Linked DNA regions of Homo sapiens. The protein of the gene in region 7 purifies or fractionates together with the protein of the main gene of each other region. This does not show direct contact. Each region holds a gene or a part of one and is shown on either strand. Other genes may lie near its edges. The genes, in order: ARL8B, SIRT5, KLHL24, PADI3, ACP3, PKP1 and CPLX3.

Region 1 (4,502 bases), on a different chromosome or scaffold from region 7:
AATTTTAAACAGCCAATGTGTGGAGGTTATTTACTAACCAACAGGAAACACCTGCAGCAGGCTGCATACTTATAGAGCAGCAAACTTAAGGGAAGTCTGTAAGGCTTTACTGTCTTCCTTTTCAAGTCTCTTCACTGCTATGCACAGTTGAGGGCATAACCTTAAAAGTCTGTAACATAACAAAAACATTTTAAACATCAAACATCGTGCTTTCCCCACTGTGGCACATTTTTAGAGTAAAGCATTTGGCCAACTGGATGTTACAGCATGATGCCCACTACATTATGTTTAAGCTTCCATTCCAGTTCTGAACCCACCAGACCCTTGGAGCAGCTGGAATTACCAAATCAACAGGGTATCAGTGTAACTCAATCCTACATGGAGCAAACAGACAAAGCAGTTAGTTCCTCAAACACCCAATTTACTTGACAGAATCAAAGACCAACTTTATAAGTTTAGAAGTTTTTAAAAGCAGATACACATTTAGAATTAAGCTAAATGTATATCCTCCGTGTTCCCCCATCCTCACCCTCAACTCTCACACACTCACCCCCTTGGTAGGAGAATGGTGAGAAGTGGATGAAACTTGATGCTTGACTACATGGCTCCAGTAATGCAGTGAAAAGACAAAAACACATCAACGTGACGTTCCAGGGAAATAAACGCGAAATCATGCATCCAACTGGCCACTAAGGGTTGGCTGTACAGAATTGTAGTATGCGTATGGAGAAAATGCTAACTGAACCTTTCTAAACAAATAAAAATATACACAATTATTTTTCCAATAGCTCAAGTATTGACTTATTTTATGGGCAGATGATACCAAACTAGCAAAAAGCTTTATGCTAAAAATGTGCCTTTGTGGGAAAACCAGCATGTTCGGTACTTAAAATATTTCCATTCTGAACTGAAGTCAGTGAATAGGCATGTCTTGCAACTTCATTTGCTTAGCAGGGTCTTGGTTTGATTTGTAAAAACTGGGACATAAAATGTTTTACTAGCACTTGCCACTTAAAGTCCTAAATTTGGTGTATTGTGACCGTTGACAAGTAGTAGCATTTCCCCCGCCCCCAAAAAATCACAATATCAATTCTGTGGATATTTTAAAAGTTTATTTCTATTTTAACTAGCCCACAGACCCCATTCTTTGAGGGCTGATCTGATTTCTGACAAATGGTCTATAGACCCTCCTCTCGGAAACTTCCAAAAAAGTCTGCACCTTCCATCATGATGCACATTTTAAGTTAAAATTGCCAATACAACCCTTAAAATGCAAGTTTATTGAATAAAGCTGAGAAGAGCAGTAAACAGACAAAAAATGCATCCACCTAAATAAAAAAATTCACATATTTACATAGTTCAGTAACTGTTAAAAGTTTTCACATGCAGAGGTTAATGCACAGGAAAATGTTGGTAATAGCGTCTGGATGTCTTGAAATGCGGAAAGCAATGTATAGACACACAAACACATTAAGGTTTAGCTATAGGTCAATTAACAAACCTATGCAGTCCCCACAGAGTCACACATTCTAGTTCCAATTCCTCCTTTTAGGCACAAGCAAGTTGCCACATTCTTTGTAATGGTTCACACTGACCATTAATGGTGTTGAACAACAGTAGCAAGTTTAAATATCCCTTCATTTACAGAACCATCCATCCCACCAGGGTAGTATGCAACATGCTTCAAAGAATAAGAAGAGAAATTTAAAAGCCCAGATTCTACTCATAAAAATATGAATGGAGAAAAGCAAGTAGTGTCTGTGCAACACAGTGCAGTATATTGTACAGAATATTTTTAAGGCCATGGCAGTCTATAAATTAAAACTGATATTCATTAAAAGAACTTACTGTTGACTACACTCTGAGTGCTCAACACATTTGGAAATGCAGTCTACATAAGTGCTGCTTAACAAAAGAAACAAAATCACACACAGTGTGAGGCAACACATAAGCAGGTGTACCATAGAGTTTTATCTACTACAGTGGTCTATATGAATAATAATTTACAAATGAACCAGTATTAATATGTCCCTTTATGTATACGGAAGTCGCTAAACTACAAAACATGTCCATTTGAAGTTTTTAGACATCTCTGTATCATAGAAGCAAACAAACAGCATCAGTTCCTCAGTTCTCTGTGTGACTGATTATTAAACAACCTGTAGACATTGAGCATGATTACATTAGATAAAGCAGGCAGGTCTAGAGTTGTCACAATAATCAAGATGTCTAATGGCACCAGTCAAAAGAGTGCCAAAGCTTACATCAGTAAGAGAGAAAAATAAAAATTTTTTATTTGTTTATAAGTATCTTTTGTGCTGAAAGTCAACTTTATGACTGGATATAAAAAGTCAGGAGTTAAGAGTGTCATGCAGCAGCACTGATTTAATGACTGGAGATAGAACAAACAGATGTTTGAACAAAGACTGACATTCTTAACAGGTTTTATTATATTGGGTGGAATGCTCTAAATTCATGAACGCTTTTGGAAAATCTTCAATTCTCAACCCCTTAAAAAAGTATCCTGAACCAGGAAGAAAAAACAAGAGACAGAAATAATGATCTGGACAGATACAAAACAGGATGCTTTAGTTCCTCCCATATCCCAACTGCCATCTGGTGATAGAGTTCTCAGAAAGCAGGATATCTTTAATATTCATCAGGCAGAATCTCACCAGTGCAAAGAACCAACATTGATCTGGTGCCTCCGCTCACTCTCTGCAGACCATTTTGGATTCCTAAGATGTAATTATACATTTCACATGCATTTGTGAGATAAAATAAACATTATGTTTACATATATCCCACATGAGTCATTCACGCCTAAAGGTTTTCTAAATACTGTGTGTGGCACTAGAAACTTCATGCTGTATCAAGTCAGTGTCAGTATTAAGCTACTGGACTCTATAATGAAATATTATAGATAGACATTTACTGAAAACCAATATAAAAATCTGGCCCAGAAAGACCAGAATGGAAATATGCAATTTTCTTGATTTAAGATGGTCATAAGTATATGGGGTTTTTTTTCTGTTTTTAAAGCTCTACACATGGTTTAAGACAGGTATGTGTAAGAAGCCTTTTTGTGTGTGCTGACTTTATCATGACAACTCTAGCTGATTCTTTATGAAGGATTAGGGATATTCATCTTCAGCAGTGCACATGAGAAATAAACTCTGAAAAAGGCAATTTCTGGGGTTTAGGAAGGACCGTATTCTGGGAATTACTTCAGAGGAACGGACAATAATTCTAGGATTATAGCCAAGAAGGACTGGAAGACTTCAGGAGATGCTTCAGCTTCTTCTAGATTTTGAATGCTGAATAAGCCACTGAAGTGTGATATCTAAAGATAGAGGGGAAAAGTGAAGACATTAAAGTTAAAAAACTAAACATCAAACAGAGACAATATTTAAAAGGCAGCTAATTCAAGGCACACACTATGCCTGACCTCTGCTGCTTTTCTGCATCTGCATTACCATACTCCATTACCCGAACTTCAAGAGAATATGAGGAATTATCAGAGACTGAAGCGTTTTCTGATTTAAAAATTAAGTTGTGTATAGGACGGCTGGTGCCACCTTTTATGTGTTGCCCACACAATCAATCAGGTGTTGCATGCAAATTGCCAGGAAGGCAAAAAAAAAAAAAAAAAAAAAGGAATAACCCCTGTTTGCCCTCAAGGCGCTTTTAAGTATAATACACAGAAAAGATGCAGTAATTCCCGGGGCTTGGGGGCCACCCCACAGAACTCCAGGTTAAAAAAAAAAAACAGCAAAAGAATGTTAAAAGGCATGAAACATTGTGGAGCTCTGGATGGATTGTGAGTGATACAATGTGACTAAAGCACAGGGATGGGAGAGGAGGCTGTCACTGCCAAGGCTGGTGCAGGGTTCACACCATGCCCTTTTGACATCTGGGGCTGGGTAATTCTTGTCCTCACTTCTTCAGAAGGGTACATGAGAGTCTATCAGAAGCACCACTCTATTCTCCAAGCCTGAAAGATGAGGGTAAATTCACTACCAGTTTCCCAGCTAACATGCATTAACGAAACACCACAGGGCTGAGCTATAACAAACATGAACTGTTCACCATTGTGGAAGCAATGATTTAACCCAACTACTGAAGAAGCACCTCTGCACCTTAAAATGGGGACAACAGTGCACAATACGAGCAAAGCCACACTCATTGGAACTGAATGGGAGAAAGGTAAATCTGAAGTGAAATAACCAAATTTAAATATTTAAGAAATTCATGGCCGGGCACGGTGGCTCACACCTGTAATCCCACACTTTGGGAGGCCGAGGCAGGTGATCACCTGAGGTCAGCAGTTTGAGACCAGCCTGGCCAACATGGTGAAACCCCATCTCTACTAAAAATACAAAAATTAGCCGAGCACGGCAGCGGGCGCCTGTAATCCCAGCTACTCGGGAGGCTGAGGCAGGAGATCACTTGAACCCAGGAGGCGGAGGTTGCAGTGAGCCAAAATTGCGCCACTGCACTCC
Region 2 (4,502 bases), on a different chromosome or scaffold from region 7:
CGTGCTGTAGAATGTGTACCTTATGTTCACTGCTTACCTGTCTGCCTCAACCACTAGAATATAATCTTTCCTTGGTAGATATTTGTTTTGTTTACTGATATATCCTATCTTAAGCACTTAGAAAAGTGTCTGATACATAGTGGATACTTACAAATATTTGTGGACTTTAATTAAATTCCAACATTTAGAGAAATTTAAAGATCAACAGGGCACAACATAGTGGCTGCAGGGCACAGTGGGCCAAAGGTGCTTTGAAGGCCCTGGCCACCAGCTCCCTGCAGCGACAGTCCCATTTTTGCCTCAGCGAATGTACAAATCCTACAAGCCAAGGCCCCCTGGGGTTGAGTAACAGTCAAAACACTGAGGTTTAAATTCAAAAATGCCTAGGGTTTATTGGAATAGTCAGGGTTTATCAGAAATCATCCAATATAAGCATCGGACATGGGGAAAACGACAAAACCAAAACTGGAACTAATTAACACCTTGAAAATAGAAATACATTCCTGTGGGAGGAGAATTCTATGCCTTTGTCACTAGATTAGAACTGGGGCAAAGAATCTGAACAACTTGTGTAAGGCCTAAGGTGTCTTGTGAGATCCAAATCCTTATTAAAATATAGGCAGCATTCTAGCTGCCTATTTAGGTAACAAAGAAAATCAGGTTAAAAGTAGCAGAGAACATTATTCCATTTTTTTTTTCTCCGTAACCTAGAGCAGGGGTTAGAAAACTTTTTCTGTAAAGGGCCACACAGGACATATTTTAGGCTTTGCAGACCAGCCAGTCTCTGTTGCAACTATTCACCTCTGTCATCCTAATGCAAAAGCAGCCACACACAATATACAAACATATGGCCACAGCTGTGTTCCAATGAAACCTTATTTACAGATACAGGTGGTGGGCAAATTTGGCCCACAGGCAGTAGTTTGCTGACCCCTGACCTAGGGTAAAGTTCAACCAAAATCTGTTAAGCACGAGATATACAATTCTGCCATTGTTAAGCTCTGTGTTTAAACAGTCCTCTCAATTGCTCCAGGGTTGGTTTCTGCCTTTGAAAAATTGAGTAGGATGAGATGACTATCACCAGCATCTCTTCTAAATGTCAGCTTTGATGATGCCAAGAAAAAAGCATTGCTGGCTTCATTGATCAGTTACTCCTTCATTGATGAGATGACAGTTCTTGTGGTCAGTCTGGTTGATAAGTAGCTTGCCAAATTGATAAGAATTTCTAACTAGCAAGTAGCCTGTTTGTTAGAGACAATCATAGGTTTTCAAGACAATATGAAGCTGAAGAATTTTGGCTGAAGTAGCAGCTGAAACAGGTCTGTGGTTTTAGGAGGCTTGACTTGAGCAGTGATATATATTACATGCCAAGAATCTCTCCTGAACTGGCAGGAAAAACCACCAAGTTCAGTTTCTTTCACATGAAGACACAGCCACCATATCCAAGGGATGCTGGGCCCCTGCTGCTCAGTCCATGGCATGGGAGGTGGGGGCCAACTCTAAACTTGGGTTGTGGAAATACTCCAGTTTTATTTTCTTCTTTTTCTCTATCTGCATTTTCTTGCTTTTCTACAATGATGACTTGTTTTAATTCTTTATAATAATTAGAGATGAGATGGAGATCAAATGACTGAAAAGAAACCACATTAGAAGAACCAAACTGGGGACATAGCTCAGGTCCTGCTTCACAAAGTTTATCCTGTCCCACTCTTCGAGTTTTCTGATGGTCTTTCAAACAGACAGGAGGCTTGAGCTGCCTAGCTCCGGTATTACTACGCTTAGTCATGCTAAGTGGCCCAGCTGCTCCACATAGGTGCCACAACACAAATCAGACGGAGGCTCAATGTGCATTTTTCAGGAGATAAGTTAGAAGATCATTTAACTTTTTATCTAACAGCTTTATTGAGATTTGATTCACATACAATCCACCTATTTCAAATATATAATTCAGTGGCTTTTAGTGTATTCACAGAATTATACAACCATCACCACAATCAACTTTAGAGCATTTTTAACAACCTCAAAGAAACTTGTTCTCATTAGCACCCACTCCCAATTCCTCCCTACTCCCAGCCAAAACAACCACTCATCTACCTTCTCTCTATTGATCTGCCTATTCTAGATATTTCGTATAAATGAAGTCATACCATATATGGTCTTTTATGACTGGCTTCTTTCACTTAGCATAACGTTTTCAAGGGTCATCCATGTAGTAGCATGTATGGATATCTCGTTCTTTTTATGGCTAAAATATAGTCCATTGTACAAACATACCAAATTTTATTTATTCATCCTTCAGTCGATGGACGTTTGGGTTGTTTCTACTTTTTCCATTAACAAGTTGCTATGAACATTTGTGTACAGATTTTTGTGTAGATGTATGATTTCATTTCTAGGACTATATACCAAGGAGTAGAATTGCTAGATCATATAGTAACCCTATATTTAAATGCCACATTGTTTTCTAAAATGACTGCGCCATTGTACATTCTCATCAGCCATGTATGAGGGTTCCAATTTCCTCACCAACACTTGTGATTTTCCTTTATCTTAAAAATTATAGCCACGCTTGTGGCTGTGAAGTGGTATCTCACTGTGGTTTTGCTACTGAACATCATTTCAATATGCTTATTGGCCATGTGTATATATTTGGAGAAATGTCTTTTCAAATATTTTGACCTGGTTTTTAATTGGATTGTCTTTTTATTATTTATAGTTGTAAGAGTTCTTTATATATCCTGGATACAAATCCCTTATCAAATATCAAATATTAGACTTACAAATATTTTCTCCGATTCTATGGGTTGTCTTTTTTTTTTTTTTTTTTTTGAGACGGAGTCTGGCTCTGTCGCCCAGGCTGGAGTGCAGTGGCGCGATCTCGGCTCACTGCAAGCTCCACCTCCCGGGTTCACGCCATTCTCCAGCCTCAGCCTCCCGAGTAGCTGGGACTACAGACGCCCACCACCACGCCCGGCTAATTTTTTGTATTTTTAGTAGAGACGGGGTTTCACCGTGTTAACCAGGATGGTCTCGATCTCCTGACCTCATGATCCACCTGCCTCGGCCTCCCAAAGTGCTGGGATTACAGGCGTGAGCCACCGCACCCGGCCTGTGGGTTGTCTTTTTACTTAATCGATGGTACCCATTGGAATACAGAAGTTTTAAATTTTGATAAAGTCCAATTTATCCATTTTTCTTATGTTACTTGCTCTTTTGGTGTCATATCTAAGAAAGCTTTAACCCAAGGTTACAAAGATTTACTCCTACATTTTCTTTTGACATTTTATACTTTTAGCTCTTACATTTAGGTCTATGATCCATTTTGGGTTATTTTTTGTAATGGTGTGACAGAGGGGTCCAAGCTTATTCTTTTGCATGTGGGTATCCAGCACTATTTCTTGAAAAAGACTGTATTTCATCAAATTGTCTTGCCACTCTTTTCAAAAATCAGTTGACCATGAATGTGAGGTTTGTTTTATTGTTCTGTTTTGTTTTGTTTTTTACTGGACTCTCAATTCTACTCCACTGATTCTATATATCTATCCTATGCCAGTGCCACACTGTCTTGATTACTGCAACTTTGTAGTAAGTTTTTTTTTTTTTTTGAGACGGAGTTTTACTCTTGTTGCCCAGGCTGGAGTGCAATGGCACAATCTCGGCTCACTGCAACCTCCCCCTCCCAGGTTCAAGCGATTCTCCTGCCTCAGCCTCCCAAGTAGCTGGGATTACAGGCATGTGCCATCATGCCTAGTTAATACATAGTAAGTTTTGAAATTGGGAAGTATGAGTTCTCCAACTTCATTTTTCATTTTGTTTTGGCTATTTTGGGTCCCTTGCATTTTCATATGAATTTTAGATTAATCTTTTCAATTAATTGCTGTCAAAAGCCAGTTGTGATTTTGATAGGGACTGAGTTGATTGAGCCCATAGATCAATTTGGGGAGCATTGCCATCTTAATCATATTAAGTTGTCCAATCCATGAACACTGGATATGTTTCCATTCATTTAGGCCTTCCTTATTTCTTTCAATAATGTTCTGTAGTTTTCAGAGTATAAGTTTTGCATAGGAGGCAATTTTTTTTTAAGGCTATCTTCTTAGTTCCTACTACTCACACACAGATGAAGAACTATGGATCAAGAACACAGGCTGTAGCTGATCAAAAAGACACATGGAAAAGAAGAGGCTCAGAGCCAGTTCACTCACTTGAGGAGGGGCCTACTGAAGTGTCTGTGGCCCCTTTTCTTTCTTTTTTCTTTTTTTTTTTTAAATCCCAGCAAAGACTTAGAAGAGTGGTTCCTATCCTGGCTGCACACAGGAATCACCTAGGAAGCTTATCAAAATGATGATGTCTGGGCTGCAACTCAGAGCAATGACATCGAAATTTCATGAGGTGGCACCCAGGCATCAGTATTTTTAAAATATGCAGCCAAGGTTGGAAACTGTTGATTAAAGTAATGACAAGATGGTTCAATGAAGTTTTCTATTTTATTCATTTATATT
Region 3 (3,201 bases), on a different chromosome or scaffold from region 7:
GTCTGTTTTAAAGGAAAAAATCTTAATATTGATTGATATGATAATCTGATAGCTGGGAAGGCTCATATGATTTTTCTGACTCTTAATTTATACTCCTTGTACAATGTTGATATCTATATTTTGTATAGGAGATTTATGTGAGCTGGGCATTGTGGCTCATGCCTGTAATCCCAGCACTTTGGGAGGCCAAGGCAGAAGGATCACTTGAAGTCAGGAGTTTGAGAGCAGCCTGGGCAACACAGCAAGACCCCCTGTATCTACAAAAAATTTAAAAATTAGCTAGGCGTGGTGGCATGAATCTGTAGTCCTATAGCTACTAGGGATGCTAAGGTAGGAGAATCACCTGAGTCCAGGAAATTGAGGCTGCCATGAGCCATGATTGTGCCACTGCAGTTCAATCTGGGTGACACAGTGAGATCCTGTCTCGAAAAAAAAAAATATATCCTAACATAATTAGGAGGAAACTATCCCTTCTGTCTCCATTATCAGTTAATAAATAGCAGAGAAGCAGAAGGCAGGTATAGTCCATTTCCCTCCACATTCCATTAAGACAGCAGGTTATTTTATTTATTTTTTTTTTTTGAGACGGAGTCTCGCTCTGTCGCCCAGGCTGGAGTGCAGTGGCTCGATCTTGGCTCACTGCAACCTCCGCCTCCTGGGTTCAAGCGATTCTCCTGCCTCAGCCTCCCCAAGTAGCTGGGACTGCAGGCACACACCACCATGCCTAGCTAATTTTTGTATTTTTAGTAGAGATGGGGTTTCACCATGTTGGCCAGGATGTTCTCAATCCCTTGACCTCGTGATCCTCCCGCCTTGGCCTCCCAAAGTGCTGGGAATACAGGCGTGAGCCACTGTGCCCAGCCAGGTCATTTTTTTTTAAACAGAAAATTTAAAGTATAATAGAAGAGGCTGGGTGCAGTGGCTCACACCTGTAATCCCAGCACTTTGGGAGGCTGAGGCGGGAGGATCACGAGGTCAGGAGAGCGAGACCATCCTGGCTAACACGGTGAAACCCTGTCTCTACTAAAAATATAAAAAGAAAAATTAGCCGGGCGTGGTGGCATGCACCTGTAGTCCCAGGTACTCAGGAGGCTGAAGCACGAGAATCGCTTGAACCCAGGAGGCAGAGGTTGCAGTAAGCCAAGACTGCACCACTGCTCTCCAGCCTGGGTGACAGAGTGAGACTCCGTCTCAAAAAAAGAAAAAAAAAATTTTTTTTTTTGAATAGGGAATACTTTCGTGTGTTTCAGACTAAAAAATTGATTTTATATGTATTTATAATTACACACATATACGTATGCAGTAAAGTTTCATTTTTACTTGTCCTTCAGCCACCATTTCCTTTCCTCTTACACACTAATATTTTCAGTTTCTTATTTATCCTTCCAGTTATTTTATGGACATACCAGTAAATACACACATATATTAATATATCCAGTATTTTCCCCATCTCTTTTTTGCACAACCCCTTAAATATACTTAAAATAAAACAGAACAACAAATTTTTCGTAAACAAAATTTAATACAACCATATAGTCAAGTAATAATGGTTAAAAGACATTTTATTAGATACAACTTTTAAAAAATTAAACTATGCAAGAAGTATATTTAAACAAAACATGTAAGTAAGTATTCACGTGCTACAACTTAACTAAGAACAATTAAATACAAAGCATTCTTTCCACTATGAAGACTCTGGAGCCTCTAATTGAAAGCAAATGACCTTAGGTCTATACTAGTTGTAAAGCAGATTATACTTTTGTTCAACTCTAAATTTGTATTGTCTTAGAGCTCCAACAACTCTCAATAAAAATTTAAATAAAGAAACCTTGGGGGAGGGGTGATAGGGAAGGGGAGAGTAAGTGCTTTTTCAAAAAGGTAAATGAAAAAGCCTGAAGAGGGAAAAAATTGTACATAAGTATGGAACAAAAATAAGTATACTTTTTTGACATTCGATGTAGATACTGCAAATGAATTTACACGGGTTTAATCAATGTAAGATAGATATTTGTCTGAATATTTTAAAAAGCACCTAGGTATCAAAAAATAAAAACAAAAAATATAATGAAACTCCAAACATCCAACAATCTCCCTTAACATTCTCATTCTGCCAAGCAACCACACGTTGGTGCTTATTACACAATTTAAGAAGGGGAAGTTTATTTACTCTATAGGAAACAAATATGAACCTTATCTAAGGTAAGCTTCATTTAGATTGAAAAAAAAGTTGAAATAGCACTAGAGAACTTAAGGCACATAAACAAATTCAGGTGCAGTTATTTTGAAACCATTAAAACAAATTCTTTTCTTTGGAACAATATATAAAATAAGTTATGAATGTTGCTGTTTTTATCAGCACTAGGAAAATTTAATATCTAAGGCAATCACACAAATGTAAAATGTTCATATAAAACATTAAAAAATGTCTAAAGTGTCTCTGGAATTATTCATTCACACTCCTGGCTCAAATGGTTTCTGGTGCCTAGCATTAGATGTGACAATAATGATAGCTAGCTAGTCAAACCTACTGCCTTAAAGATCAACCAATTTGCTCCATTCTGGTTACTTGGCATGGTAAATTTATTTAACTAAAAAGAATAATGGGGTGAGGTGATGTAAACCTGGCTTTCAATAAGATGCACAACAAATTCTAATAAGGCCAAAACTCTGTTGAGGTTAACTGGTGTCTTGAGTTTACTAAAATAAAGGCAGTCCATAGGAAGCCTCAAAGAGACATTATCTTACCACTTGGCACCACAAAAACACCAAGCTCTCCTCTCTGAAAATACAGGCCGGGGGTGGTGGCTCACGCCTGTAATCCCAGCACTTTGGGAGGCCGAGGTGGGCGGATCACGTGGTCAGGAGTGATCCGTCTCTACTAAACCCCGTCTCTACTAAAAATACAAAAAAATTAGCCGGGTGTGGTGGCACGCACCTGTGGTCTCAGCTACTCGGGAGGCTGAGGCAGAATCCCTTGAACCCGGGAGGTGGAGGTTGCAGTCAGCTGAGATCGCGCCACTGCACTCCAGCCTGGGCGACAGAGCAAGACCCCGTTCTCCCCCCTTCCCCAAAAAAAAAAAAAAACGAAAAAAATACAGTTTGAAGTAGATGTCGTCTTTTCCACATATAAATCTCAAGACATAAAAGGCACACACAATTCAACTCCTCTCTTTTCATATATGGGTTCTCACAGCAATTTAA
Region 4 (4,502 bases), on a different chromosome or scaffold from region 7:
CTCAGAGAGCGGTAGTAACTCACGCAACATCACACAGCATGTAAGTAACGGAACAGGGTTGGTCTGACCCTAAAGCTTGTGCTCTGAACAGGTGCACCATCCTGCCTCCCCTATTTAGGGCTGCCAGATTCAGTAAATAAAAATACAGGATGCCCAATTAACTTTGAATTTTAGATAAACGACAACTTTTTTAGTGTAAGTATATCCCATGCAATATTTGGGACGTACTTACACCAAAAAGTTAACCTGTTGCTTGTCTGAAATTCACATTTGACTGGGCATCCCTGCATTTTATCTGGCAACCCTACCCTCATCCCTAAAGAGCACGGTTCCCACTGCTGCCCTCTGTACCCCACACCCCGGTGTGGCCCCTGGGGTAAGGCCTCTCAGCTCTCAGGGGTGGGCTGCGGCCGGGACCACTCACCAGGATTCTTTTGTAAGGGAAATCCTGCAGTTCCCCATTCCTTGGGGAGTCAAAGACCACCGGGAGGGTCTTGTGCGGCGCCTGAACGTAGCCCAGCTCCATCTCATCCTGCAAGTGAGGAGAGGCGAGAGACGCACAGCTGTGACAGTCAACAGCTGCCCCTGCTGGCTCGGCTCTGAGCCCTGTGGGGCAGACTGCTCACCAAGTCCCCTGGCCCAAGCATGTTTTGTGCTTGGAGGCGGACAGGACCGAGGTCAGGGTGCCTGCTGACTGGAGGAGGGGCTGGAGGCTCAAGGAGGGGGTGCACTTGTCTAAGGTCACACAGCAAGACAGAGGCCGGAGGTGAACGAGAACATGGACATGACCTTGGGGGTGTCCCTGTGAGTACTGGGCCAAGGCAGGTGGACACAGAGAAGCACTCACAGTGGCCTGAGTTGGATCCATAAATGTGCCCAGGTCAGTCCTGACCCCTCTGGTTCTGGAGGAAAAGATGGCCCAGTGTGAATGAACTTCACATCCAGGTCCTGCCCTAAACTCTTTATAAACATTAACTCCATTCATCCTCATGACATGCCTGGGCGTGGGCACCATAATTATCCCATGTGACAGATGAGGAAAATGAGGAACTAAGAGGTCTAATTATTTATCCAGTCCGGGCACGGTGGCTCACACCTATAATCCCAGCACTTTGGGAGGGTGAGGCGGGAGGATTGCTTGAGGCCAGGAGTTTGAGACAACCCTGGGCAACATGGCAAGACCCCATCTCTACAAAAAATTAGCTGAGCCTGGTGGCTGCACCTGTGGTCTCAGCTACTCGGGAGACTGAGGCAGAAGGATCACTTGAACCCAGGAGTTCCAGGCTGCCAGTGAGCTGTGATCATGCCATGGCACTCCAACCAGGGTGACAGAGAGACACTGTCTCCAAAAAGAAAAATAAATTCAAAATATATTAATTTAAAAAAATAAATAAAAATTAAAAAATATTTGTCCCAAAGCTCACAGCTAGTTAGTTGGTGGCACAGCCAGGCTCTAAACCCAGCCCATCGTGCCCCAGAGTCCTGCCCCAAACCCTCTCACTGGACTGACCTCCGGCCAAGAGGAAAGCTCCTTAACTTGGAATTCAAGGTCTCCGACCTCAACCCTTGCCTTTCTCAGAACCAGTGCCCTGACAGAGGAGAACACACAAGGTTCTCTCTCCTGCCTCCCACCCCCGGGCCTTTGCGCATGCTCGGTCTCTGCCAGGACCACCAACCTGTACAGCCTGGTGCTTGGCAGCCTGAGTCCTAGCACTGCCTTTACCAGCTCTGTGGCCCAGTCATGCTCCCCTAAGAGCTCCTGAATTATGGGGGACTTACAGGGGGTTATCAAGAAGATGAAATGATGCTATGCCTGGCCTGCAGAAAATGGGGCATAAATGGCAGAAGTCATGTGCCCTCATCTGCCAAATCTGGTCCAGCTCAGATGCTCTCCCTCCTGGAGGTCTTCACTGATTCCCTGGGCAGAGGTGATGCTGCATCCCCCAAACCCTACTGGTGCTTTGCTGGTATAGCCTCTGCACCCTAGATATTTCTTTTTCTCTCTCTCTCTCTCTCTTTTTTTTTTTTTTTTTTTGTTGTTGTTGCTGAGGCTGGAGTGCAGTGGCACAATCACAGCTCTCTGCAGCCTTGACCTTCCTAAACTCAGGTGATCCTCTGACCTCAGCCTCCAGAGTAGCTGGGACTACAGACACACGCCACCATGCCCTGCTAATTTTTTAACTTTTTTGCAGAGACAGGGTTTCACCATGTTGCCCCAGCTACACACTAGATAGTAGGAGTAGGTATTTTTGTAGCAATCATTCTGCACATCAAGGTTTCTCAGCCTCGACACTACTGAGGCGTGGGACTGGATGATATGTTATTGTGGGGGCTTGTCCTGCGCACTGTCTGCAGATACTGCAAAACGTCTCCTGGGGACACATCGCCTCTTGATGAGAACCACTGGTCTCAGCTGTTGAGGGCAGGGAGTGTGTGTCTCACACCTGTGCCACCCCTGTGGGCCTAGCCTAGTGCCTAGCCCAGATCCGGTGGGTGAATGGGTGTTGAATCCAGGATCAGCGTGGGTCTCCAGAAGGTTCTGGAGAGAAGCCTCTAGGTCTCACATTAGAAACGGCAGCAAGTTCCCTGGGGAGCACCCAGGTCCTCCTGGATGTTTCTCGGTGGCCCCCAAATGAAGGCCTCTCTCTCCAGGATGGCGTCCTTGCTGGGCCCTGCCCAGTGGCTGTGGTTACCTGGATCCAGCGGTCGTTGCGGTTCTCGGCCTGTGGGCAGATGGTCAGCTTGCAGCCGGCCTTCCTGGCCAGCTCTGCCACCGCATCCACAAAACACGTGTTGTTCCTCACACTACGGACAAGCCCAGGGAAGAGGGGCTCAGGATGGAGCCGGGGCCTGGGGGCCAGAGGGACCACCCACTGCCCCAAGACTCACCGGCACACATACACCTCTAGGGGTGGCAGAGTGCTGGGCGTCATGATCCAGGGTGCCACTCGGAACACCACAGTGTCAGTGAAGATAGGGGATGCCGAGAAATCCTGCAGGGGCAGACCAGGGGAGAAAGAGCACTGGACTTGGAGTCCAGAGGCCTGGGGGGACTCTGATTCCACCACTGTGGTCCATAAGAAAACCCCTTGCTTCTCTGCAAGATGGAAATGAACCAGAGGGGTGGTCAAGAAGTCTGGGGTCTTTCACACCAGTGGTGCCTGGTAGACTTACCAGGAATGGAGTCCTCCCCACTGCCCTTTATTATTATTATTTTTTGGAGACAGGGTCTTACTTTGTTGCCCAGGCTGTGGAGTGCAGTGGGGTGATCATGGCTCACTGCAACCTCAACCTCCCTGGGGTTCAGGTGATCCTCCCACCTCAGCCTCCCAAGTAACTGGGACTATAGGTGTACACCACTATACCTCGCTATTTTTTTTTTTTTTGTAGAGATGGGGTTTCACCATGTTGCCCAGGCTGGTCCCGAGTGGAGCTCCTCTTGAACCCCCTCTGTCCCTACCTCGTTGGAGTCGTCCAGCAGAGTGACATGGAAGGAGATGAGTCCTGTGAAGCCGGCATCAGGGAAGGACAGGCCTTCCACGAAGAAGCGCTCCTCATCCCCATGCAAGCGGGGTACCTCATAGGACACCTTATCTTGGCCCAGCACATGCCTATAGGCCTCACACACATCCTCAGGACCTGGAAGGGGAGGGACGGGGTGGCTGTGACTCCCTGTGGGCCCAGGGAGCATGAGTATGAGGGACACAGGAAGAGGTCTGCAGCCTCACCAAAAATTCCAAGTCCTCCAACAACTCCCTCCTTTCACCTCCACTGGCAAAGGAGAGGACAGGTAATACACAGTGGGGGCCACGGCTGGGGGAAAGGGTCTTCCTTTCTAAGACTGGCGCTCATACCTTTTTGGAGCACAATTTGGCAGCATCCAACAAAGTAATGTTTACCCCAAGCCCAGCAATTCCACTGCTAGGTATCTTTCCTACAAAAATACATCTACAGGCTGGGCACGGTGGCTCATGTCTGTAATCACAGCACTTTGGGAGACCGAAGGCGGTGGATCACCTGAAGTTAGGAGTTCAAGACCAGCCTGGCTAACATAGTGAAACCCTGTCTCTACTAAAAATACAAAAATTAGCCGGGCGGTGGTGGTGCACACCTATAATCCCAGCTACTCAGGAGGCTTAGGCAGGAGGATTGCTTGAACCCAGGAGGCGGAGGTTGCAGTGAGCCAAGATCACACCACTGCACTCCAGCCTGGGCATGGAGCGAGAATCCATCTCAAAAAAAACCAAAACCAACAAAAAACAAAACAACAACAACAAACAAACAATAATAGGTACAAAGTCACATAATATTTCTGTACAAGAGTGCTCGATATTCATTAATTCATCAAATATTTACTGTGCAACTACAGTGCACCCATGGGGCACGGTTCTGGACTTGAACAAAGCCCCTGACCTCAAGCAACCTGCATTGTTATAAAATCAAAACACTGCAAACCACTATGATGTTCAGAGAACTGTGTAAGTCACAGCACCTCTATGCTT
Region 5 (4,502 bases), on a different chromosome or scaffold from region 7:
TTGGTGCTAAACTCTGTGGCCAAGCTTTTGGGAGCCATGACAGCCACCTGAAATCAGCAAGTTGCCCTTTGTCAACAAGTGCCTTTTAGTCAGGCTGCAGTTTTGGTCATGAATATATCAGTTCTTGGTTCTGGTATGATTACACCCTTATCCCAGGAGTGATTAGGGGTGACTATCATGATTATCCTCAGGCTCTGGCATATCAATATTCTGTTTTATAGGGGAAACTGAGGCTTGGAGAGGCTCAGAAACTTGATTAGATTATACAACTTGCAAGCAGAGAAGGAGGGCTTTAAATCTAGCATGTCCTGTGTCAAAACCTTTATTTGTAATCATTAGAACATGCTATCGTGGAAAGCTAGCTTCAAAGTTATCTGTTGTATCCTTTATTAAATCTTCGTAAACTAGACAAAAATATCATTGACCTGAAGACATAAACTTTGCTTCCTTCATTTCTAGTCTACAGCAGAGGTTGGCAAACTTTTCTGTAAAAGTCCAGAGAGTAAATGTCTTAGGCTTTGTGGGTTAAAAAATCTGTTGCAACTACTCAGCTCTGCGGTGGTAGCATGAAAGCAGCAATAGACAATGCATAAATGAATGAGTGTGGCTGTATTTCAATAAAACTTTATTTACAAAACCAGGTAGTGGGCTGGATTAGGCATACAGGCAGTAGTTTGCCAACCTCTGGCCTAGAGCAAGAAGAGCTCTCTTTTCACTGATATGACCAGCCATATGATCCTAAATTTGCCCCAGGGATTTTTTTGGTGTGTGTGTGTGTGTGTGTGTGTGTGTATGTGTGTGTGTCTTACTGAACAGTGTCACCCCTGAAGTTAAATGATGAAATAAAAATTCTAGACTGGGCACAGTAGTTCATGCCTATAATCCCAGAACTTTGGGAGGCCAAGGTGGAGGATCGCTTGAGCCCAGGAGTTCAAGACTAGCCTGGGCAACATAAGGAGACCCTGTCTTTGCAAAAAATTTAAAAAAAATTTAGCTGGGCATGGTGGTGCATGACTGTAGTCCCAGCTACTTGGGAGTCTGAGGTGGGAGGATCGCTTGAGCCTGGGAGGTCAAGGCTACAGTGAGCCGTGATCATGCTGCTGCACTCCAGCCTGGAGGACAGAATGAGACCCTGTCTCAAAAACAGACACAAAAACAAACAAAAAATACAAAGAAACAAAAACAAAACAAACTAACAAAAAAACTAGCAAAGGTCAGAAGATGGCCCTGATGTGTCCACATTACTCTTTGTCACCTAGACAATGTGTGTTTTCTGTGCAGGAATGTGTGCAGCTGTTTCATCATTCAATAAACATGTAGTTGACAAATCTCTCTTGCCCAGCCAGATCTGAATAATAGTCTGAGCTTTTGTTTTGGCAGAACCACACAGGAGAAATTTTCCTGCTTAACAATGGCGCTGGACTTTTTCCAGAAAGCAGGACAGCTGGTTTCATACAAGTGCCAGCCTTTAGAATCCAAGATCAGAGAACAACTCAGAGAAGGACTCTTATAGACAGTCTAGTTTAATCTCCTCATAGGTAGTGAAACAGAGATCCAGAGAGGGGAAGTGGCTTCTCCCAAATGTAATCTTCTAGTAGGCAAGGGAAATAAAAGAGGAAACATGAGGAAAGTGGAGCAACTCCATTTCTTATTCATACATACACATCCCTACATCTACTATTAGACTACTGTCAACTCCTGTCTGGTATAAAGCATGTTGGGATTTTATTCAAATGCAGATCCTGATTCAACTCGTTTGGGAGTGGGGCCTGTGTTTCTAGCCAGGTGGTAGTTGATGCCGATGCTGAAAAGTAGACTGCACTTTGAGTTGTGAGGGACTAGGTGCCTGAATCCACCATAACTAGGTTGGGGGAAATAAATCAAGAGTCCCGCTTCCACCATTTGATGGGGCTTGCAACTGAGTCACACTGCTGGCACCTGGTGGGCCAGAAATGAGGCTGAGTGCTTATGTGGCTTCCAAGGCACCCTCTACATCTTTTGTTGTTAAGCACTTAAGATTGAGCTTCTTCCTGGGTTCTGCCCATAGACACAGTCTGTATCCCGCCTGGTAATTTTTTCCAACACTCCAGCTTCCATCTAAGACTCCTCTCTGGAGACTCTCCCTTCCTCAAGGCTGGATCTTGTTGCTCATGTGTTTAATGTGAAGTAAGGACTTGCACATTTCTATCAAGTCTGTCTCTGTGCCATGCAATCAGGATTTTTGTAATAGCAGATCTACAACAACCTCATGTCGTTAATGGCCACTGTCCTAAATTTTTTGCCCCAACCTACTTTATTCATCTCACATGAATTTGCTCCTGACCATCCTGGTTTCATACCTCATTCCCCTGGTTACAGCTTGCCTCACTCTTTATACCTGGTGTGCAGCCCTGCTTTTCTAGCTATAATTGATTCCTTTTCTGGTCAGTGATTTGAATTTTTTCCCTAGTTAAGTAGCCTCAGTGAACAACCTCCCAGTCTGGTCCAGCCCTAATATGCTTTGCCTCTATGCATTCTCTTGGGATTTTGATGGACTTGTCCTGATGCTGTGGTGAATAGTGTCTGTCAATGGCTGGAATCATGATGTGATTGTATTAATCTCAAAATGCCTTGAATATGTGTGTCAGCCTGACTTGGACCATCTCCTGTGGCTTGGACTTTCCTCATTACGTCAACCTGACATGATGAACTTTCTCTTCTTCTTTATCCCTAGTTTTAATACCTATGATAACCACATCTAAGTCTGACACCTCATTTGGTATCTTGGCCTGCCCATCCAGTTTCTCTCATAAGCCCCAACATCTGTCCTTGTCTTTGCTGGTCCTGACTTTTTTCTTCCATCCACTTATCCTGATTACAAGAATCCAGCATCCTCTTGCCTGGGTCTGCCTTCATATGACAGGGTGTCCTGTGCTACGAAGAGCCAGTTCTAACCAAGAAGAGGCATCACTGATAAATAAATCTCAACAGCTTTCAATGTCAATGAAAAATTTCAAGCTGTGTTATAAACTTGTCAATTGCAACATATTTTAACAGCACATAATTGGTCTGAAAAATATAACAATTAGCCTGAAAAATATATTTTATCGGCTTTCACAATGACTACCACTCAGGGTTTCAGGAAAACAGGCCACTTTTGTCATACCTCCCACTTGAAAAATTCATCATATAGGCCACAAGACACAATTGATTTTCATGTGGCTCAGACACAGATCCTTGATTTTTGATCTGGAGGGGATGGAAAGGATCATTTAGCTTTAGCTTTCATTTTCCAGATAGAAAACTAAGGGCTTGAGTGAGTAATAGTTATGATTATACTAACATATGACATTTATTGACAGTGTATTATGTACCAGGTACTGTTTGCTCTAAGCCATTTGAATACATACATTCATTTTAATACTCACTGTCTATGAAGTAGGTATCATTAATATCCCCATTTTGCAGAATGGAAGCTGGTGCAAGAGTGATTAAGTGAACTGTCTGAGATCACACAGTTGATTAGTGGAGGGAATGACTCAGACCTGGATCATTCAACCACAAATCCAATATGCTCCTCTCATTTTTTAATACTTACCCCCTTGGAGCCTAGATTTCTCTTTCTGCTTGTGAATTCCATAGAGGGACAGGAGGGACAATTCTGACAATTCTCTCAACTTAGTCATGGTGTCCTCAGTGGCCCAGGAGGGTAAAGTGAAATTGTGAACACTCTGTAGCAAAGAAAAAGGAAGAAAAATGTATGTGTATTTATATGACTGTCCTCTTTGTTGACTTATCCTTTTTCACCTCACAAGAACTAGTAGGGCCAGACTTTCTTGTCCTGCCATTTCTTTCTAAAAGAACTTCATATTGTGATAAGTAGTGGTATTGACTTTCAGAAGAAAAGCTTATATAAATGAATTTACCCATTCCTACCCAGTCCATAGCTTTTGGTTTAACTCTGGATCAGTGGGTGGCTCATATTTTGCAGAGTAAGGGTGCAGTAGGGAAATAATACCTCATTCCTTTATGAAAGGGTTAGAAATCTTTCTATGAACCTGACAGAGTTAAATGATATTTCCTTAAAAGCTGAATGGGCTGCCTGAGAGGCCAGTTAGGAAAGGCAATATATTTCTGGAGCCTTCAGTAATATATTCTCCCCTACCCCCATCAAGGTCTAGTTTGCTGACTTTTTTTTTCTTTTTTTTTTTTCAGAGACATTGTCTTGCTCTGTCACCAAGGCTGGAATGCAGTGGCCATCACAGCTCACTGTAACCTCAAACTCCAGGACTCAAGCAATCCTCCTACCTCAGCCTCCTGAGTAGTTGGGACTATAGGTGCATGCCACCACACGTGGCACTTTTTTTTTTTTTTTTTTTTGAGACAGAATCTTGCTCTGTCATCCAGCCTGGAGTGCAGTGGCACGATTTCAGCTCACTGCAACCTCCACTTCCTGGGTTCAAGCGATTCTCTTGCCTCAGCCTCCCGAGTAGCTGGGATTACAGGCATGCGCCACCACACCC
Region 6 (4,502 bases), on a different chromosome or scaffold from region 7:
TGACCTCTAAGGTGGTCTGAGCCCCTACAGTTCCAAGAACAGATTCCCCCTTGTGCAAGATGAATGGCCTCTACCCAGCTCCCAGAGTGCACCCTGAGCCCCAGGCCAAGGTGTCAGCATGGGCCTGTCCCTTAGGGCTGGCTTCAGGCTCCAGGAGGGCCCAGAGGAAAGGGCAGATGAGGCAGTGGCTCCTGGGGGGGTGCTTGATGGGGCAGGCCCCGCCCTGCTGATGCTGTGCTCACCATCATCTTGTCGCTCTTGTTGCTGAAGCAGCCAGTGGAGGACTTCTCGGTGTAGGCGTTGCGGGCGTTATACTCCAGCTGGCGGTAGCGGGTGGGCACCTCGGCGTCCAGGCGGTAGGAGAGGTTGTGCAGAACACACATGCAGTTTTCCACAGACTGGGGACCAAGGAGAGGCATGGGCCTGAGCCTCTGCCCGGCCCGACAGGCTCCTGGCCTACCACCTACCCTAGCTAATAAGAGAGCAGAGGCACCTGGGCTGCATCGGGAAAGATGAGCGCAGGCACCACCACACTATCAGCCTGGGAAGTCTTCCAGGGCCACCTCTGGGACCTGAGTTTGAATCTGTCATTTCCTGGCTGCATGAACTTGACTGGCCTCACTTCTCTGGGCCTCAGCTATCTCAAATGTAAAATGAGACTACAATTGTCCATTTCACTAGGCTATTTGGAAGATGATACAGAGAAAGCACTTATCACAGGGCCTAGTGTGTGGTAGGACTGCTATGGACAACATGCCAATGGGCAGACTGGGATATTGAAGAATGTGTCTTTTTTTTTTTCCAGAACAAACTCCTCCAGAAGAAGCCCCATGCCTCTAGATTCCAAAGCCATCTAGTGCCCCCATCATTCTTTCTTCCTGGGGCCAGTCCTTAGCTGTCAATGTCAGCGGTGCTAAGTCCACACAAAACACAGCAACACCTGGAGCCCAGGGCTTCATCATGGCAGCTGGGCTCAGATCTTTGTCAATCTCCTTTGGCAAACCTCCAAAGGACTAGGGTTTGGGGGCAGCAGATTTACCCTCCTAATGATGTTTGGCCCTTGCTGGGGTCTAAGGGAATCTGACTTCCAGGGCTTGGGGTTACACAGGTGTTGGAGATATTGCACACAGAGCAGAAAAGCATCTTGCCCTTTGGAAGCAGGCTGAGCAGCCCAGTGACAAGGCTCTCCTCTGTGGCCCTGCTGTTGCTTCCAGTGGAGGGAGCAGGAGATAAAATCCCTCCTTACGGCAACTGTGCTGAGAACCCAGGTGCTGTGATGTCAGCCCGTTCCCTGGCGATCTGGAGCCTGCTGGGCCTCACTATCTCCTGAGCCACTGTCCTGCCATGGTGGGAACATCTCAGCCTTCTGTTTATCTGCCCTCCACAACTTTTTTTCTTTCTGTTTGTCTGTGCTGTGTGTCCAGAAGTCCAGAGAGGGCAGCAAGATGACTGCCAATGGCTTTTCTGGGAGGCAGTGGGAAGATAGCAGTGGCAGAAGGAGCCTCATCTCAGGGGGGACACTAAGCCCTGGGGGCACCAGTATGGATTCCTCTGGGCTGTGGGGCAGGGCTCGGGGTCACAGGACAGGCCTCAGCACCACCAATGAAGCACAGCCAGCAGATGCTCGCTGGGAGCTTCCTCTGTGCCAGGCCCTCTTCGTGTTTTGCTTATTAACTAATCAAGCCTTTCAGACAACCCTTGAGGTTGATATGATTATGACCCTTTCCATTAGAGTGAAGAGTGAACCGGGAAACAGAGAGATTAGGGAAGCAGCTGCATCTACTCCACTTCTAAGTGAGGGAGAGTGGATTTGCATGGGCACGCTGTCCCCAGAGCCCACTCCTGTAGCCACCACTGAGCCCTGCATCCAGATGCCTCTTCTACCACCCCTGAGTCTGTGCTCCTGTCTTGTCACTGGGCCAGGCCTCAAAGGCACCCAGAAAATGTAGGGGGCTGGGCCTAGGGGTCAGGGTGCCACCAGGGGATGCACTCACCTTGTCGTCACAGCGGCTGGCCGCTACACAGTTCTGGACATAGGCCATGAGGGAATCAATGAGCCCTGAGTAGTTACGCATGGTCTGGCGGCCTGCATCGGCCGAGCTCAGGTTCCTGGGGGAGAGAAGAGGGTGGAAGAGGGCAGAGAAAGGGGGAAGAGAGAACGGGGAAGGTGGGGACAAGAGAGTGTGGTGGGGGACAGGCAGGAGAGAGAACAGGCAGGAGAGGGGAGGGCAGAGAGGAGACGACGGGGTGGAGATTGGAAGTTGTGGTAGAAGGAAGGAAGGAGAAGAGGAAAGGGAGGAAAGGAATGAAGAGAGGAAAAGATGAAAACGGAAGGAAAGAGAAACCATTTAGCCAATTCCGCCTGGCCCTGGCTGAGGCTGAAATGAGGTCTCATTTGCACTCAGTTCTTCTCCTCCTTCACTCTGCCCAGTAACTTTATAACTGGCAATGGCTCCATGTGGCAACGGTCCCTCCGCAGCTGCATCCCAAGGCTCACACCCTGCTACTAGTGGCCCTTTGCGGAACAAGAGCCAGAAGCTCCCGCATGCCCAGTCTCTTTCTGTGGGACAGGAAGAAGCCCTGTTGATGCTGGATCAGAAGTGGATCTGGGGGTGGCCGGGCTGGGCACCAGAAGCTCCCTCTCCACCCAAGCTGTGTTCTGCCCCCAGCAGTAGGCTCACTCCCAAGCAATGTGGGCTCATCCCCAAGCAATGTGGGCTCATCAGCCTGGTGCAGGTGGGGTGTGGCTGCTGTTGCTACCAGTAGCACATCAACCCCATAAAACTCTTAATTATCCTCACTTTTCATCTCCCCAGCCTCTCTGCTTCCTGGAGGCTGCTACCGGAGGCTGGCAGGGAGAAACACAAGTTGAGACACAGAGGCACATGCCAGCTGCACCCACCACTCTGGGGGGATTCTCAGGAGTTGGGAAAGACAAATCCCATTAAAGCAAGACAAACCCCATTAAAGACCCTAAAAGGGATCCTGCTCCAGGGTTCCAAGCCCTGTACCAGCCGCCCCTCCACACCCACCCATTTCGCCAGCTTGTAAACCACTGCTTCTAGAACAAGCCCTCCCACCAGCCCCACAGGGGCTTTGCCACACCCTGGTATGGAACTTAGGCAACTTTGGGTGAAGCAGTGCCATCTTCATGCCAATGAACATGGCAAATGGTTTTAACACCACAGCTGGGAAGTGACTCATTAGCAACCCATCGGTAGACTTTTGTCTAAAAGAACACTCTTCAAGATGATAGCACAAGAAATGCATTTTTTTTCATGGGGTGGAGGAGGGAAATGGTTGAACCAGTTTGGATATTCAGATCTAGGCATTTTCAAGCTCAGATTTCTGACTAATGTCCGCTGCATTCTCTCAAAGGGGGTGGTAGGGTCCTGGGCCTTATCCAGTTCCAGGGAAGTTAGGAAGGCCTGAGTCCCTGTGTCTTGGAGCCTGCCCATAAGAGGGAGTGCCGGGTTGTCTGTTATGTTCTATGCACCGGCTGAATGTTGGCTGAGATGGGGCTGCCTGGGGAAGGGCCCAAGGCTGGGACAAAAAGACCCCATGTATCCTCTTCTCTCACCTCAAGCAGCCTGTGGCATTGAAGAAGACCTCAGGGTCCACCACTTCCCGGGACATGTTGCTATTGCCATCGCACCAGCCAGAGAAGGGAATGATGACGCGGTCGGCCAGAACAGGCAGGGCGTCGGCAATGAGTTCCTCCTTCAGCTCGTCAGTGGAAGACAGGTTCCAGAGCAGCCCTGGGGGTCAGAGACCATCAACCCAATTTGTGCCAGGCTCAGGATGCCCTAGGGACCGAGGTAACAGCCCCAGCCTGGACTCTGGCAAATGGGCCCTACTGAAATGTCGCTTTCCAGGTAGCCCTGGTCTGTAGAACCTATTGTCTGTCTGTGTCATGAGGCTATTTCTCAATGCCCCAACCAGACTGAAGGTTCTTTGCAGGCAGGGAACATCTCAGAGTTCTCTGTCAAGGCCAAAATTATGCATGTGGAAAGTGATCAAAAAACGTTTGATTGATCAGTGGTTTTTAGTATAAATTTTAGCACTTGGAGTCTTCTAACGCTGTCTCTTTTCCATCTGAAAGTTATGCCAGAAATACTTATCAGTCATTACTCTGTACATGGTCTGATCTTCCCAGCCCAATTCTAGGTCTTCACGGTGACCTCTTCCTCTTGTGCCCCCCACCTTGAGTGCCTACCATATTTCTTGAACACAGGGTAGGTGCTTAAGGCCTGTTAACCCCTTCTCCCCTCAGTCTTACTCTCTTTCCATCACCTGGGAATCCCAGGGCTTGTGGAATATGGATCTTGCCTGGACATCAGCCTTCCTCCTTTTGCTCTTTAACCTCAAAAAGATGGTGACCCCTTGTGTGTGCACACCACCCAAGGTCACCCTCTGGACACCCCTAATTGGGCCAAGGCCAGTGTCACTAAACTCTCAGGATATTAGCCCTGGGCCAAATCTGCACAGCTGTGTCTTGGCCC
Region 7 (3,678 bases):
ATAGTGCAAACTGGTCAGGGCTTCTTGGAGTTCCGCTCCCAGGGTGAAGGGGAAACTAATGTGGGGGCTCACCCCTCTCCCGACCTTTAATCCAGGTTCCAACCAGCCTTGCTTTGACAGGGTTCAGCGAGTGCAAGTTCCCCAGCCCCCACTGCCCACCACCCCTGCCTCTCCTTCTCGGCCCTGCGAAGCACTGAGGGGGAAGGGGTCTGTCGAATCCCATTAGGCAGAAGGCCCCGGAGGGCGGAGTGCTGACGTGGGCCTTGCTGCTGATGCTGCGGAGGCAGCCCATGACCCCCCTACCCGGCTTGGGGCTCTGGCTTGGGTCTCCTCCAGCTCTGAGAAGGTCAGGAGGAGGCCCTGGCCTGGGGGCAGCCCAGGAGCAGCTCAGAGGCCCAGGCCCATTCCCTGGGGACACTCAGGAGAGTGAGACCAAGAGTGACAGCTTCAGCAGCAGACTCCAGGGCTGGGCCTGTGTCTCTCCCTGCCCTGTCTCCTCTCTTCCAGCCCCGCATGATCTCCTGTACAGGTTGTATATGCCTTGTTTTTATTTTACAAAGGAGACCTCATGGAAACTTTGCCCTTGAAACCCAATCCTCAGACAGCCGCTCCTGCCTGTGAACCTTGGCTGGCTTCCCTACAGGCCGGGCCCTGGACCTCGGGGTGGGGCACCTAGGGTTGGCCCCATAGCACCTTCCTCCTGCCCAGGCCCCTGGGGCGACCTGCTTGGGGAGCTTCCTGGCTGGTTTCTTAAACCTCCCCTGACCCCTGCCCCTCAGCCCCTGCCACAGGTGAGCGGGATGAGATCTGGGCTCTTCATTTTTTTAAAAGAATGAGTTACATTTATTGATATGGTTTGTCATATGCTTTATAAATGGTCACCCTTTGAAACATGTATTATTACTATTTGGGGGAGAGGGGGACTGTTCATTTTACAGGGGACAAGCAAGACAGGCTCAAGGAGGGAAAGGACAGGCTCAAAGTCATCACAGTGTGGGGCTGGAATGCAGTTGCCCTTCCTTCTTTCTTTTTGCACATCTTCCGTCTCTAGGGTGAGGAGGGGTGTAGGCACAGGCACCCAAGACAGCTGCGGTCCAGCCCCGGCCCCACCTGTGGTCTCAGTGACGCCCCAGAGGCCCCATCTTCCCCACATAATGAGGCTGCTCCATCCTCCTCAAAGCCCAGACCTATTTCATAAGCCCCAGACCCCACCTTCACCCAGGGCCCCAAGAGAACAGAGCTGGAGACACTTCTACTCCTAGCACTGGATGCCTTCTCCCCTCCTGTGAAGCTGTAGGTGGGGGGTGGAGGACACCCCTTTAAGGCAGGCTCGGGGGGCTATGAACTCCAAGACTCCTGGAAGCCAGTAAGAAGTGGGAAGGTAGGCACACCATTTGGGATTTTTATTTTTCACTGAGCTAAGAGAGGAGATTCCAGCTATGGAATCCAGAGAGCGTTCTACAGGAACAGAACAGAAATTGGCTGGGCCCTGGGCCCAGAGGAGGCCTGGAGCCGCTTACTGTTCAGTGCCAGCTTCATCCTTGGCACTCTGCCTCTCACACAGCATCGCTCCGGCTCCCAGAGCCCACAGTGGCAGCCGCTGGAGGCTGTGGCAGCAGCTGCTGCCCTGCCCAAGGAGGGATGTGGGCTTGGCTCTGACAGTTCAAGCCAGAAAGAGCCTTAGAAGTCATTCAGGACATTCCCATTTTACAGATGATGAAATAAGGCTCAGAGAGAGCAGGGGCTTTCAAGAACAATAAAGGTGGAGACTGGAACTCAGGCCTCCTGTCTGCTGAGGGTGTCTGCCCATGCTCTCTCTCAGAGTTTCTGAGTGGTGGTGTCTGGAGGGGCTGGACACGCAAGGGAGCTGGCCTCGTGTGTGTCTGTCTGTGCCGGGATGTATCTGTGGCTTCTGTCTCTGAACGTGCCAGGGGTTTTGTGTCCTGTGTGTGTCTCTCTGTGGGTGCTCCTGTGTGCAGGAACTTGGGGCCATGGCCAGAGAGGGATGGGCCTATTCCTACAATCTTGGGAGGCCTCCACAGGCTGAGCTGGTGGGGAGGGTCCTGAAGGGTAGAGTGAAGATGGGGACTTTACTCCCAGCGGAGAGGAAGAAACCAGAAGATAGGCTTGGGGCATGGATGGGAAAGGTCTTGGAACTAGGATGGGGCAAGGGAAACAAAGCCCCAAATGGAGTATGGGTCCCTGGAAGTTGACACACTCTTAGCCCTCATGGGGGCCCAGCCCAGTGGGTAACCCCGGGGAAGTGGTCACATGACGTGACACTTCTCAGCTGATTGCTTGAGATCCCCCAGTGTGGCCTGGGCCTTGTCCTTGAGTGAGCCCAGGTTCAAGCCAGGAAGGCTGGCCAGCTGCCCAAGGACTGAGGCCTTCTCCTCCTCCTCCTCTGTGTCCTCCTCGATCATCTTGGCCAGCTCCCGGGGCAGCTCCACGTCTCCACCTGCCATCTGGATCTGGCTCTCATCTGTCTCGTTCTGAAGGGAAGAGGGGAAGAGGGGGTGGGGTGGAGTGGAAGTCTGTGAGGACCCAGAGTTGAGAGGACAGGGAGGAGGCTTGGACTGGGTTCCAGGCCCCTAGATTCTATTTTTTCTTTTTTTTTTTTTTTGTAGAGACGAGGTCTCCCTATGTTGCCCACGCTGGTCTCAAACTCCTGGGCTCAAGTGATATGCCCACCTTGGCCTCCCAAAGTGCCGGGGGAATACAGGAATGAGCCACTGTGCCCGGCCCCTTAGATTCTTGAGCCCCATGTTCCAGTGAGCTCAGCTCCCACCCCCACATCCCAGGATCAAGCGTTTGATGCCTGGACATGGAGACCTTTTTATATTACCTTATTTCACTCTGAGATGCTGAAGGACCAGCACAGTGAGTAAAGACAAAATGAAAATACCTATGAGTCACACTGTTACAGTCAGCTAAGTCATGTTTTGACTCTTGTTATGCTTAAGGGTGTAACCAAAAATAGTGATGGGTACCATTTATCAAACATCTATTATATCTATTACATGGCAGACGTTGAGCTGGGTGCTTTTAATTCTCACAATAACCCTGTGAGGTAGGTAGGTATTGTTATTTCCACTTCACAAATAAGGAAATTGAGGCTTACAGGATTTAAGTAACTTACTTTAAATTTAAGTTACTTAACTAACTTAAGTAACTTAAGTAACTTAAATTATCCAAGATCACACAGGCAGGATGTTGGGGAGCTAGATTCAAACCTATGTCACTGATTCCAACATCTGTGTTTTTTTGCATGGCACCTACGATGACCATTGCCCTTCACTATTCTTCTGGGGGGCGCCTTATGTCCTACTCAGTTGCATCCAAGTCTTGGCTCTTCTGCTCAACTCTGACTTTGCTGATGGCAGGTGTCTCTTATATGCCTAGCGCAAGCATCTGAGGAATGATTTTATTCCTAGAAGAGTTTGCAGTGAGGCAGGCTTTCTGGACCGGTTTTTCCCCGTGACAGATTTCCAAAAGATTGGTGCCCTGTGGGGAGTCAGAAGCAGCTGGGGACTCAGTAAATATTTGTTGAATGAGTGAATGTGATGTTCATATATTTGGTCATTCAATTCAAGTGGAAGATCAAAATCAGGAGCGCTATAGCCCTGTGCTGTTTTCCCCTGAGTCCAGCACAGTTCTGGATGCACTAGGGTGATATTC

The links.
Region 1: the proteins of CPLX3 (region 7) and ARL8B purify together in Homo sapiens (affinity purification with mass spectrometry; 2 studies listed by BioGRID and IntAct, with this or other methods). This does not show direct contact.
Region 2: the proteins of CPLX3 (region 7) and SIRT5 purify together in Homo sapiens (affinity purification with mass spectrometry; 2 studies listed by BioGRID and IntAct, with this or other methods). This does not show direct contact.
Region 3: the proteins of CPLX3 (region 7) and KLHL24 purify together in Homo sapiens (affinity purification with mass spectrometry; one large-scale study listed by BioGRID and IntAct). This does not show direct contact.
Region 4: the proteins of CPLX3 (region 7) and PADI3 purify together in Homo sapiens (affinity purification with mass spectrometry; one large-scale study listed by BioGRID and IntAct). This does not show direct contact.
Region 5: the proteins of CPLX3 (region 7) and ACP3 purify together in Homo sapiens (affinity purification with mass spectrometry; 2 studies listed by BioGRID and IntAct, with this or other methods). This does not show direct contact.
Region 6: the proteins of CPLX3 (region 7) and PKP1 purify together in Homo sapiens (affinity purification with mass spectrometry; one large-scale study listed by BioGRID and IntAct). This does not show direct contact.

What each region holds. Positions count from the first base shown.
Region 1 is NC_000003.12:5,177,505-5,182,006, reverse strand, and holds the end of ARL8B (ADP-ribosylation factor-like protein 8B), read right to left. Parts: intron 3,344-4,502; coding exon 3,294-3,343; 3' UTR 1,096-3,293; downstream 1-1,095. UniProt on the Homo sapiens protein: Small GTPase which cycles between active GTP-bound and inactive GDP-bound states.
Region 2 is NC_000006.12:13,601,604-13,606,105, reverse strand, and holds part of SIRT5 (NAD-dependent protein deacylase sirtuin-5, mitochondrial), read right to left. Parts: exon of another isoform or gene 4,469-4,502; intron 1,631-4,468; coding exon of another isoform or gene 1,588-1,630; exon of another isoform or gene 367-1,587; intron 1-366. UniProt on the Homo sapiens protein: NAD-dependent lysine demalonylase, desuccinylase and deglutarylase that specifically removes malonyl, succinyl and glutaryl groups on target proteins.
Region 3 is NC_000003.12:183,682,821-183,686,021, reverse strand, and holds the end of KLHL24 (kelch-like protein 24), read right to left. Parts: 3' UTR 1,503-3,201; downstream 1-1,502. UniProt on the Homo sapiens protein: Necessary to maintain the balance between intermediate filament stability and degradation, a process that is essential for skin integrity.
Region 4 is NC_000001.11:17,269,370-17,273,871, reverse strand, and holds part of PADI3 (protein-arginine deiminase type-3), read right to left. Parts: intron 3,640-4,502; coding exon 3,461-3,639; intron 2,994-3,460; coding exon 2,890-2,993; intron 2,806-2,889; coding exon 2,694-2,805; intron 533-2,693; coding exon 425-532; intron 1-424. UniProt on the Homo sapiens protein: Catalyzes the deimination of arginine residues of proteins.
Region 5 is NC_000003.12:132,344,135-132,348,636, reverse strand, and holds part of ACP3 (prostatic acid phosphatase isoform PAP precursor), read right to left. Parts: intron 3,711-4,502; coding exon 3,578-3,710; intron 1-3,577. UniProt on the Homo sapiens protein: A non-specific tyrosine phosphatase that dephosphorylates a diverse number of substrates under acidic conditions (pH 4-6) including alkyl, aryl, and acyl orthophosphate monoesters and phosphorylated proteins.
Region 6 is NC_000001.11:201,317,874-201,322,375, reverse strand, and holds part of PKP1 (plakophilin-1), read right to left. Parts: intron 3,759-4,502; coding exon 3,581-3,758; intron 2,561-3,580; coding exon of another isoform or gene 2,498-2,560; intron 2,110-2,497; coding exon 1,995-2,109; intron 399-1,994; coding exon 243-398; intron 1-242. UniProt on the Homo sapiens protein: A component of desmosome cell-cell junctions which are required for positive regulation of cellular adhesion.
Region 7 is NC_000015.10:74,828,944-74,832,621, reverse strand, and holds the end of CPLX3 (complexin-3), read right to left. Parts: intron 3,505-3,678; exon of another isoform or gene 2,921-3,504; intron 2,493-2,920; coding exon 2,268-2,492; 3' UTR 820-2,267; downstream 1-819.